Linked DNA regions of Homo sapiens. The protein of the gene in region 2 interacts with the protein of the main gene of each other region in a pairwise test. Each region holds a gene or a part of one and is shown on either strand. Other genes may lie near its edges.

The links. The genes of interacting proteins can lie anywhere in the genome.
Region 1: the proteins of NTMT1 (region 2) and GLYR1 interact in binary tests that used the Homo sapiens proteins (3 or more experiments, as listed by UniProt).

The regions. Positions count from the first base shown.
Region 1 is NC_000016.10:4,840,789-4,844,288, forward strand, and holds part of GLYR1 (cytokine-like nuclear factor N-PAC), read right to left. Parts: intron 2,815-3,500; exon of another isoform or gene 2,616-2,814; intron 603-2,615; exon of another isoform or gene 1-602. UniProt on the Homo sapiens protein: Cytokine-like nuclear factor with chromatin gene reader activity involved in chromatin modification and regulation of gene expression. Acts as a nucleosome-destabilizing factor that is recruited to genes during transcriptional activation.
Region 2 is NC_000009.12:129,629,163-129,632,662, reverse strand, and holds part of NTMT1 (N-terminal Xaa-Pro-Lys N-methyltransferase 1), read right to left. Parts: intron 14-3,500; 5' UTR 1-13. UniProt on the Homo sapiens protein: Distributive alpha-N-methyltransferase that methylates the N-terminus of target proteins containing the N-terminal motif [Ala/Gly/Pro/Ser]-Pro-Lys when the initiator Met is cleaved.

The DNA.
Region 1 (3,500 bases), on a different chromosome or scaffold from region 2:
GCACATTAGGCTGGTAACCAATCCAGAGCTCTTTCCCCAAAGTAATCTGCTGCCACCAGCCAATCTGGAGATCTTACCTTCATAGAAAAACACAAAATAAAATCTGCCCCAGCACTGATCACTAAGGAAGTGTTCCTTCTTTAGAGAAGTACTGTACATCTTTACCCTTTATTTCCTTTCTCTAAGTTAACTGCCTACCCACAAAAAGATAACACATTAGTACCACAGTGACTTCATTTTTATAGTTTAAAATGTAGAACTCTAGCAAAGGAGTTTAAAAAGTTAAAAATATTGCATTTAGCAGTTGCTTTGTATCCCACTTGTTTACAACCCTCCAAAGAACCTTCGTCAGTTAGAAATTATATCATCACCACCACCATCCAGGCTATTTTTGTCTTGAGCAAGCACATCACCACTGGCTTCACCTGTTTGCCTGGTTAAGCTCTGAAATTAACTCAACTCCAATTTTCTGTGTCCTATTTCTAGCACTTGTTATAAACAAGGATCACAGTTTATTAATCTAGTCTTTTAGCATTAAAAAAAAAATCGGGGCTCGGCGCTGTGGCTCATGCCCATAATGCCAGTACTTCGGGAGGCCGAGGTGGGAGGATCACTTGAGCCCAGGAGTTTGCGACCAGCCTGGGAAACATGGCGAGAACTTGTCTCTACAAAAAAAAAAAAAAAAAAAAAAAAAAAAAGTAAAAAATTTAGCAGGGCATGGTGGCACACAACTGTGGTCCCAGCTACTCGGACTGCTGAGGTGGGAGGATTACCTGAGCCTGGGAAGTCAAGGATGCAGTAAGCCATGTCCGTGATACTGCACTCCAACCCTTTCTCAAAAAAAAATCAAGAAACCAAACAAGAACAACAACAACAACAACAACAACAAAAAACATAAGGAAACAATGGCTTTCAGGCTCCTTATGAGACTGAGTTCCCATTTTTGTTTCAGACTTGTGTAATTATTCATTTAGCTAATGAAGTTTGGGCCAACCATATTGCCTCTGTTATTCCTAAGCACAAGTTACCTCAGGCAGGGAGCCTCTTCCTTTCCATAACACCCAGCTTAATGCCAATTGTTCATGGTATCCCCACTGTCTGAAATGCCCCTATAGTCCCCATCCATCCAGATTCTATGTATCTTCCAGAGCTGGATTCAAATCCCATCTCTGGCTGAGTGCGATGGCTCACGCCTGTAATCCCAGCACTTTGGGAGGCCGAGGCGGGCAGATCACGAGGTCAGGAGATCAAGACCATCTTGGCTAACATGGTGAAACCCTGCCTCTACTGAAAAATACAACAAAAATTAGCTGGGCATGGTGGTGTGCGCCTGTAGTCCCAGCTACTCGGGAGGCTGAGGCAGGAGAATGGCATGAACCCGGGAGGTGGAGCTTGTAGTGAGCCAAGATCGCGCCACTGCACTCCAGCCTGGGCGACAGAGCGAGACTCCGTTTCAAAAAAAAAAAAACAACAACAAAAAAAAACAAACAGAAAAACAAATCCCATCTCTTCAGTCAGTCTTCTTGGTTCTCATGGCTCTCCACTGAGCTCTCCCTCTTCTAGAATTCTTTTTCTTTTTAAGACAGGGTCTAGCTCTGTCACCCAGACTGGAGTGCAATATTGTGATCATGGCTCACTGCAGTTTTGACCTCCTGGGCTCAAGCAATCCTCCTGCCTTAGCCTTCTGCATACCTGGGACTACACTTGTGTGCCACCATGCCTGGCTATTGAAAAAAAAAATTTATTTTTTTAAGTAGAGACAAGGTCTTGCTATGTTGTCCAGGCTGGTCTCCGGCTCCTGGGCTCAAGCAATCCTCCTGTCTTGGCCTCCCAAAGTGCTGGGATTACAGGCATGAGCCACTGTGCCCAGCCTAGAATTAACAATTATCTGCCATCATTCATTCTGCACATAATCTTTATTTATTTTTTGAGACAGAGTCTCGCTCTGTCACCCAGACTGGAGTGCAGTGGCGCGATCTCAGCTCACTGCAACCTCCGCATCCCAGGTTCAACCAATTCTACTGCCTCAGCTTCCTGAGTAGCTGGGATTATAGGTGTGCACCACCACACCCGACTAATTTTTGTATTTTTAGTAGAGACAGGGTTTCACCATGTTGGCCAGGCTGTTCTCAAATTCCTGGCGTTAAGCAATCTGCCTGCCCCGGCCTCCCAAAGTGCTGGGGTTACAGGCATGAGCCACCATGCCCGACCATCATTGTGCACATCATCTTATCTGAAATGTTTACAACTTGTCACTTGACTGAGCATCTGGAAGGTGGGAACTATAATACTTGCTTTCTTATAAATTCCCTCAGTGTCAAGCAATTCAGAAAGTGGACACATAACACTGATGTTATGCATGAGGACAATCTTTCCTGTTTTTCTTTTTCTTTTCTGAGACATAGTCTCAGTCTGTCACCCATGCTGGAGTGCAGGGTCTCGAACAATCTCTGCCTCCTGGGTTCAGGCAATTCTCGAGCCTCAGCCTCCCAAGTAGCTGGGATTACAGGTAGACGCCAACACTCCTGGCTAATTTTTGTATTTTTTGTAGAGACGGGGTTTTGCCATGTTGGCCAGGATGGTCTCGAACTCATGACCTCCAGTGATCCACCCACCTTGGCCTCCCAAAGTACTGGGATTGCAGGCCTGAGGCACCATGCCCGGCCAAATCTTCTTTTTAAATCCATGGAGTTCTAAGAACATTCCCTCTTCCAGAAGCTCTGGCTCCACAGCTCCAGGCCAGCGATCTCCTTGAAATACTGCCACCACAGGCTGCTAAGCTGGCTTGTGATAGAGAAATGGGGCTGGGTCTATCTGTAAACATGAAACCAGGAAGAGCATCTGACATATAAACTCCTGGATGAGTGAAGAATACTGTTTATAATATATCGCTTTCTAAGTAGAAATACTTTAACCGTCAGAATTAGATTTACCAGAGAAGCCACAGACATTTTTTTCAAATCTAAGGCTGTATTTTCCTATAAGAATAATAAATAGAAATACAACTACTTAAAGAAATCAAACCGGCTGGGCATGGTGGCTCTTGCCTGTAATCCCAGCACTTTGGGAGGCTGAGGGGGTTGGGGGGGGGAGGGGCAGATGACTTGAGGTCAGGAGTTTGAGACCAGCCTGGCCAACATGGTGAAACCCCGTCTCTACTAAAAAATATAAAACAATTAGCCGGGTGTGGTGGTGTGCGCCTGTAGTCCCAGCTACTCGGGAGGCTCAGGCACCAGAATCACTTGTACCCGAGAGGTGGAGGTTGCAGTGAGCTGAGATCATGCCACTGCACTCCAGCCTGGGTGACAGAGTGAAACTCCATCTCAAAAAAAAAAAAAAAAAAAAATCAAACCATCTAGCTAGACCCAGGTAAGCCACTTGACATAGTGATAAAAAGCTAAACAAATCACTAGCAACTCAAGTTAATACAGGTTCTTCACGTTCTTCCCGTCACTGTAACATGTTATATGGTCAGAGTCTCAGATTAATGGTCCTGGTTT
Region 2 (3,500 bases):
AACCGCGACTCTCCTGGGTAAGGAAGGGGGCGTGAGTCAGCGGGCCAGGGACCTGGCAGAAAGGCCCCCAGGGCAGAGGGCCAGTCTCACACCAGGCTTCACAAGTCACACATCCTGCTGAGTGCAGAGAGAAGTCCAGGGTCCCCAAATCTGCTTCTACCCCTTGGATAACAGCATCTTCTGTCTTTTGCACTCAGAGCACCCGCCCCAAGTCCTGGCTTCAAGTTCTTTTACATTTTTATTTTTTCTGGAGTGCAGTGGTGTGATCATAGCTCAATGCAGCCTCCAACTCCCGAGCTCAAGAGACCCTCCCACCTCACCCTCCGGAGCAGCTAGGACTACAGTTGTGTGCCACCATGCCTGGCTAATTATTTTTTGTAGAGATGGGGTCTCACTATGTTACAAAGGTTGGTCTTGAAGTCCTGACCTCAAGAGATTCTCCCACCTTGGCCTCCCAAAGTGCTGGGATTACGGGTGTGAGCCCATGTGCCTGGCCTGGCTTCAAGTTCTTGATATGCTCTATATGACACCTGACTCAGTGGCTTCAGGGCACAGAAAACCCTGATCAATAAAGAGAAACGACCGCAAAGCCGAGAGCACCAGCAGACCCTGGAGGGCCAGGGAAGCTTCCACGCCTCCCTTCCTCTGGCTCAGAGCACAGCAACAACTCACGGTGGGGTCCAGTCCTCCGTTAACAAGGAGTGGGGACTCTGTGCCAGGCACCGGGCTGTGAACCAGGCAGCCAGCCAGGCAGAAAACAATTCTACAGACACAACCACACCTGCAGGGAGGGCTGCAGAGGAGAAGCGCCAGTGCCAGCAGAGCACGGAGGGAGGAAGTGGAGTCGGGTGCGGGGACCAGGGAAGGCATCCCTGAGGAGGGGACGCGTAAGCTGAAACCGATGGATGGGCAAGAATAAGCGCAGTAGGTGGAGGGCGACGGCACTGCTCCTGGAGGGAAGGACAGACAGCCCTCGCGGCTGCCAGTTCCTGGTCTCACAGTCAACTCTAGCAGTTTCGACTGCATCCTACAGAGCAATGAGTCAACCACCCTGAGGCCCAACAGAGAGTGGCCCGGGAAGACCGATGCTTCTGAAGACTGCTGGCGGCGGTGGAGATGGCAGGGGGATGAGGAGACGGTTGCCACGGTAGAAGGAGAGAGAACTAGAAAGCCTCAGCTGGGTCCTGGCAGCAGAGCCCAGGCCCACCTCACCCTTCAGGACAGCGATGACAGTTGGGCGGCTCCGTGCTCCACGGGTGGCCATTCTGCCATAAGCTTCCCAAGGCACAGTGCTGTCACCAAGGCACACCACGCTTAGGGGCTGTTCTAGTTGCTGTGAGGCTTGCCAAGACCTCAGAGAGCTCTAGTCCAGGAGGACAAAGAACAAAGGGAAAGAAAATACACAGCAGAAAAATAAGGATTCTCATGGACCCACAAAGTGTCGAGGACACTCAAAGGGCAGAGGAATCTCCTCCCAACAGCAGATAGGGGCAGCCGCCTGGAGGAGGCAGCCCGAGCTGGGCAGCCAAGCACAGGGAGTGCTGGAGGGGGTGGGGCAGACAGAGGGAGCAGCCGTGGGACAGCATGGGCCATCAGAGGGCGGAGAGTGGAGCGGGGGAAGACTGTGGAAGGTGAGCTCGGAAAGGCAGACGGGGCCTGGATGAGGGTGGCCTCGAGTGCATGCTGGGCACCAACTCTCGGCTGATGTGTTTCCCACACTGCCAAGGCCTAACCTAAAGGAGGCAGAGTGAGAATGGCAGTGGCCGTGCTGAGGACACACAGCAACAGTGGGTGGTAGGAATCCCAGCAGCAGCAGCTGCTACATCCTGATAAACCCATGGTAAAGGGAAAATACCCTCGGTGGAAAACGCGCAGCTGACTGGGAGCTGCAGCTCACCGCCTCGCACGTGCTGCCTCCACACGAGGAGAGCAGGGGGCTTCTAGCAAATGCCTGTCGCCAAAGTTGACAAATCGTAGGTCCAAGACCGTCTGCCTGACTCCTGGAGCTACAGGGTCAACACGGAAGAGTCCACATATGGAACTCGGGTACAGTCCTCAAACACAACTCAAAGCTTAAGACCCAGGAACACTCTAGGGGCTTCAAGAGAAGTGGTCAGAGGGAAACGGGAAAATGCCCTGAGAAGGAGCACGAGGCCTTTGGGAAGCAACTATGAGGAAAGAGAAGGGAAACTAAACACAAGACAAGCTGGAGAATTTTTTCTTCTTTTTTTTTAGAAAGGGTCTCACTGTCGCCAGACTTGAGTACAGCTCAGGTGATCCTCCCATCTCAGCCTCCAGGGTAGCTGGGACTGCAGGCACATACCGCCACACCTGGCTAACTTTTGTATTTTCTGTAGATATGGAGTTTTGCCACGTTGCCCAGGCTGGTCTCAAACACCTGGCTGCAAGCAATCCACCTGCCTCAGCCTCCCAAGGTGTTGGGATTACAGGCAGAAACCACTGCACCCAGCCAAGATTTTTCATTGGTCAAATTTGTTACTGGCCCCAGAACTATATTCTGCACTACTATATTCTGAACCTGTCCTGAAAGAGAAGGAACTTTCCAGAAGCAGTAGGCCCACCCCGCCCAGCCAGCTCAAGAATACTTCTAACAGATGCAACGGGGTTCTTCTTAGATCCGTGATTGGGTCTTCTCACCCTTAGCAGAATCCTTTGGCTGTGCCTAGAGAGAAGCCTGCTTAAACTTCTCTTCAGATTCTTGTTTTTTTGAGATGGGGTCTTACTATGTGGCCCAGGCTGGCCCCAAACTCCTGGGCTCAAGCCATCCTCCCTGCTCAGCCTCCCAAGTAGCTGAGATTACAGGCGCACGCCACTGCACCTGGCTTCCCTCTTCAGATTCTTGAATCCGCTCGCAGACTGACCCCTCACTTTACTGTTCACGCACAAGGGTTTCAGCCACAATGAAGAAAGGCAGCAGTCACTTCACCAATCAGGGAGCCCTTTGGGGTAACAGGCTGGGGAGGACCTTAGTTCTAAATATTGCACATAACACCCTCCCCGCAAGCTGACCACAAAGCTCCCACACTGGTGTCCCAGCACTGGGAACAACACTGCCGGAAGGAGAAAGAAGCCCACGGCTCAGAAACCCCATCTCTGTCAAAAATACACACATTCTAGTAGCTACTAGGGAGACTGAGGTGGGAGGATCACTTGAGCCTGGGAGGTCAAGGCTGCAGTGAGCCATGATCCTGCCTCTGCATTCCAGCCTGGGCAACAGAGTGAGACATTGTGTCAAAAAAAGAAGAAGAAGAATGAATTCTTCTTCCCACCAGACCTGCCAATCCTCAAGACTGCTAGATGTGCCCGGGTAGCTGACAGGAAAAAGGGCCACCAATCTGAATGTCACCATGTAGCTGGGTTTGGTGGCTGCTATGGTCTGATGGCGTAAGGACCAGGTTAGGTGGGCTGCCTGCCCCTCTGCCAGCAGGTACCGGAGCAACCATGTCACAGCCCTCCATCAGTCACTCAAGAGAGGACGG